Regions from separate parts of the Homo sapiens genome. Here region 1 is linked to region 2. The links come from fine-mapping of genetic effects on gene expression. Tissue or cell type: whole blood. Region 2 holds a variant in brackets; the other region holds the start of a gene. All regions are shown on one strand. Distances are between the middles of the regions.

What was found. PIP is the estimated chance that this variant, and not a neighbour inherited with it, causes the effect.
Region 1: POLR2C starts here. The variant in region 2 is fine-mapped to the expression of POLR2C in whole blood (TOPMed, PIP 0.99).

Annotation. Positions count from the first base shown.
Region 1 is chr16:57,461,443-57,463,942 of GRCh38, reverse strand. POLR2C (RNA polymerase II subunit C) reads right to left here and starts at 1,264. Exons shown (of 9, transcript NM_032940.3): 1 at 1,133-1,264; 2 at 865-914. The coding sequence starts at 1,218. RefSeq lists an enhancer at 1,112-1,406.
Region 2 is chr16:57,411,677-57,414,176 of GRCh38, reverse strand. It overlaps CCL17 (C-C motif chemokine ligand 17), which reads right to left. Exons shown (of 4, transcript NM_002987.3): 2 at 175-303. The coding sequence starts at 244. Among named protein-coding and RNA genes, the nearest start is that of CCL17, 8.2 kb to the right of the region's middle. RefSeq lists an enhancer at 270-319. The variant G/A (reference allele first, on the strand shown) is at 1,450.

The DNA of each region.
Region 1 (2,500 bases), 50 kb before region 2:
TTTGAGAAGGAGTCTCACTCTATTGCCCAGGCCAGAGTGCAGTGGCATGATCTCGGCTCACTGCAACCTCCACCTTCTGGGTTCAATCAATTCTGCCTCAGCCTCCCCAGTAGCTGGGATTACAGGTGGGAGCCACCACACCTGGCTAATTTTTGCATTTTTAGTAGAGGCGGGCTTTCCCCATGTTGGCCAGGCTGGTCTCAAACTCCTGGCCTCAGGTGTTCCTCAGTCTTGGCCTCCCAAAGTGCTGGAATTACAGGCGCGAGCGCGGCCTGGAAGCCATTATCCTAAGAGAATTAACACAGGAACAGAAAACCAAACACCGCATGGGAGCTAAAACTGGGTACGCACGGACATAAAGATGACAATAAACACACTGGTGACTACTAGAGCTGGAAGGGAGGCAGTGGGGCTAGGGGTGAAAAACTACCTATTGCGTACTATGCTCACTACCTGGGTGAAAGGATCATTTATACCCCAAATCTCAGCATCACGCACTATACCCAGGCAACAAACCTGCACCAATGTACCCCTTGACTCCAAAATAAAAGTTGAAAACATTTTAAAAACTTTTGTAACAATAGTAGTGAAAACAGTATTTGAACCCAAGTCTGCACACTGCTAAACCCATGCTTCTCAGCAATGCATACCCAGGACAAGGGTGGACCTAAGTGGCCCGTGGGCGCCAGGGAGGCGGCCACTGAGCCAAGGGCACAGGGTATGGTCAAGTCTCCAGCAATGCACTTTTCTCAGCACTACCACCCTCAGCCCGAACCAAGGACTGGAAGGAGCCCCAAAGAGTGTGTGGGTGGAGAGCGGGGCAGGAACCCGTGGGCGCGGGAACGAGGAAGGGGAGTCGCTTACCTATTATGGGAACCTCAGCGATGAAGACCCTCCGAATCGAATTGGCCACCCTGAAAGATCAAAAGCCAAGGGGCGTGAAGGCGCTGCAGCCTCGACAGGCTGGGCCCGCGCCGCAGGCTCCCAAAGCTAAAGCCCTGGTGCAGGGGGGCAGCTCTGGAAGGACATCGCCCCCACCCCACCCCACTACACCCCCGCCCCCTGCCCCGGGGCCCCGGCTTGGGCCTCCCGGCGCCCCAGAGCCGCCAGCCTCTTCCCTCGGTAGCCTTACGCCAGGTCGGTGTTCTCGATGATGAACTTGACATTCTCGTCAGTGAGCTCCGTGATCCGCACGGTAGGCTGGTTGGCGTACGGCATCTCGCCCAGGGGCCACCAGCCTCCGCGTCTGCTCCGCGGTGACTGCGCGGCGCCACCGCCAACACCGGAAGTCAGTCAGCGAGGCCTCCGCGGCTTCCGCAAAGACGACTCACAGCGCCGCCTGCTGCTCGGAGGCCAGAACTGCCGAGCGTCTTCTGCGGCCTCCTGCTTTAAAATGTACCAGATTCAGCTATCTCGGAGGGTAGTTTGGCAAAACACGCATACGTCCTTCACTTAACAGTAACACTTCTAAGAATTCATACTGCAGAAACACTTGCAGTTGTAAACAAAGATACGAGTGCAGGGACGTTCGTGGTAGTACTGTTTGTACTGTCCATTGATAAGAGACCTGGTGGAGTATACACACATGGAATACTATGAAGCACTTAAAAAGAACTTGTACATCTATAGAAAAACAAAAGTATATTTTAATATGAATGTATATTTTAGCAAAGTATACCTGAATTATAAGTAAATACCCTTTCCCTTGCAGTCTCAAGTATGGACCATGCACTTCTGAAAACTTCAGGAAAAGATACAATGTTCTTTAACCTAATGCTTCCTCTACAGTCTGTGTAGCTGTGGTGGGTGAGTGGGAACTCTTTGTCTCTGCATCCCCAGTGCCTGGCAGTGGGCACCATGTGGGGTGCATGCTCAACAAAGAACTACTGAAGTCCCCTAAACAGACTGGAGAGAGGTTTAAATGGGCCTCAAAAAAAGTGGCTGCTGCTCCAACAGAGAAAAGCTCTAAAATAGAACGTGGCAGGAAATACATTTAAGAGTTGGGAGAAGAGTAACCAGATAAAGAGGAGTTTGCCTTTGCAAAGAGTGACACCTCTTCCTGAAACAGAGGGTGGGCACTGATGGAACCCTGCTCCATAACCTGTGTCATCTTGGTAAATTAAGAATTATGGTTGTCTGCTGAGTGTAAGATGGATGCTATGAAGGAAAAAGGAGAATGCAATGAAAACTGGAACAGCTACTGCGAAAACTTCACAGGATGTCAAGAGATACAAGGAATTGAGAGGTGCAAAAAAGATCCAGTGGAAGACCCACAAGAGATCTGAAATTCAATTAGTTGCTGACTTTCCCCCATTAATATTCAGCTGACAGGCAGAAGAGAGCAAAGCAGAAAACAGAGCTAACCAGACGTGCAAAGGGAACCCAGCCAGTGTAGAGGCTGAGAAAATTACTGGGGCTAAAGAATGTACCACTAAAATCGTCAGACAAGAGCAGCCAAGGGAGCTGATGGTCTGTGGGAAGGCTTCTGTTACCCGTATTT
Region 2 (2,500 bases):
ATTTTTCTCTGCTTGTTTCCCTCAAAATCCTAGTGCTGTGGGCTTCTCACGTCTTTTGTGGGAGTAGGTGGGGTGTAAATAATACACAAACGTGTGTATTGCTGTGGTGGTCTTCATGCCCCCAACCCCTGTCCTCCCGGTGCCTGCCCCTGGCCACCTGTCCCCTGCTCTCACCTGCGTGGATGTGCTGCAGAGAAGCCCCCAGGAGGAGGGTGACCAGGGCCAGCATCTTCAGTGGGGCCATGGTGCCAGGAGCCCAGGAGGGAGTCTCTGTGTGCAGGTCCCTCTGCTCAGGGAGACACCCTGCTGAGAGTCGAGGGTGGCAGTGACCTATTTAACCTCTTTGGGGGTCTTGCCCCGCCCCTCTGTCACCTCCTCACATCCTTCCCTAGACCAGTGAAGTTCGAAGAATTTGAGATGATTCAGGAGAAGTCTAGCTCTTGGAATGTTTGTGGATTTCCAGAGAATGGGCACTCAACTGGAGACAGAGGTGGGGTACATGTGTCTAGAGCCCATGGCAGTGACACACTTCTCCTTTCAAAGGGGACATTTCTTGGTTCCTCTATTAGAATTGAAAAGCCTCCACGCACAGCTGGGTTCATCTCTCTGTAGCTGGAGAGCATCCTTCATGCATGGTGGCTTGAGCAGGGGGCAGACGGAAGTGTCGGGGAGTCAACCAGGCAGAAACCAAGCAGAGCTCTTCTCCTGGACCATGAGTGAGCTTCAGGGTGCTGCCAGGGCCACCCTGGCTGCCGGGCATGGGCCCATGGGCTCCTGGACCATGAGTGAGCTTCAGGGTGCTGCCAGGGCCACCCTGGCTGCCGGGCATGGGCACATGGGCATCACTCTGCAGGGAGATCCATGCTTTATCTGCCTCCGAGAGGCTGAGGCCCAGCCAGGGCACAGAGCAGCTTTGGTTGGTGTCCCATCCCAGGTGAGGCCCTGACCACAGGAGGCAAGAGCCCAACGGTGCTTCGATTCAGTCCAAATAGCTCAGGAAACCACGTTCCCCTAAATGGGATGCCTTACACTAAGATACAGAACAAAACGAAGGGGTCAGTGGGAGATGCTGCTTCTCACTTCTAGCAGAGCTGTGTCCCGGAGTCAGTACTGGACGCCTGGTCAGGGTCCAGCCTGAGCCAGGCCCTGAGCTGACTTTCCAGGCACCCCAGCTCATGGCATGGCAGATGACAGAACGTAAGTCCACTTTCCAGTGGGGGCAGGAATAAAACAAGAATTGCAATAATGAGGTTGATAAAGTTGGTGAACTGGCTTCTCTGTGACTCTAGCGTCTCAGCCCCAGGCCACAGCATCACTGCATGCGGGTCAGTCCCCTGGCCACCCGAGGAAATTGCCGGTCGCCCTGTTGGGGCTCCCGGGAGCCACAGCATGGGCGTCCCTACAGTAGGATGAGAGTCCCATGGCCTTCAGGTGGGCAGCACCAGGGAA[G/A]GGCAGCTCCAGGCAGGGCAGCACCTGGACTCTGATTGTGACATGGGGGACCTTGGCCTGGCTTCATCCTGTCCTTGCATGACCAGGGCCAACTCAAAATGACAGCACTGCCCCTCCAAAACATGGCGCAGGTGGCTTCCACCCTCTCACAGTCCACCCTGTGTTAATCACTAAATCATTACTAAGTTTTTCACTAACTGTCATGATAACTGCAACAGCCGCTATTTGTCATGAGATTTTTGTTTCTTGTTTTTAGATTCTGGGGATACCTGTGGAAACCCCACACTACTGGAGCATCGCTCAGAGCTAACCTCATCAGTCCTTAGGTAGAAGGGCAGGGATCCTATGAGAGGAAACCAGACAAAGACCCTCGACTTCGGAGGAGCCTCAGGCGCTCCTCTCCCCACCCCTCAGCAAGGGCTGCCTGGGAGCCTGTGGCTGCTTCCGCACCTGGGAGTGGGGCTTCCCTGCCCATGGCAGAATCTTTCTGTGGGCAGCATCCTCTATATGACCTCCGGCGGCTCACAGACCCTCTCTGGACCTCAATCTCATCACCTGTAGAGGGAAGTTTGGTCTGTCCCACAGAGCTCTGCCAAAACGGTAGATCTCAGGAAGATGGGGTCCCCCTTGGTGGGCCTCGCACCAACATTCCTCTGCTTCTCTGGGGGTCCCATCAGCTGCCAGAGACCCTGACCCTGCCCCCTCCTCAAGCCACAGTCCAGATGGGTTCTTTGCCCCCAGCCACCCCTCCTGTGCCCAGGGCTGTCTTCCATTTGCACGTGCAGAGGAGGGGGAGGGGAGGCTGCTCTTCCTGCCTGGGCACCTCTTTGGTGCCAACATCCCAGAGAAAGGGAGGGGCAGCCTCAGAGTAGCTCCCCGCAGAGTCCCCCTGCAAAGGAGGCCGCGCTGGGCAGGGGAAGGTGTGCAGGCACAGGGCAGCCCTGACCTGGAGACAGAGCCTGAGCCCAGAGGTGCAGGACCAGGCCTGGGTCCTCGGAAGAGGCAGGAAGGGGCGCCTCCGCCGACCACCCCTCCCTCCCTAGCTGCCCTC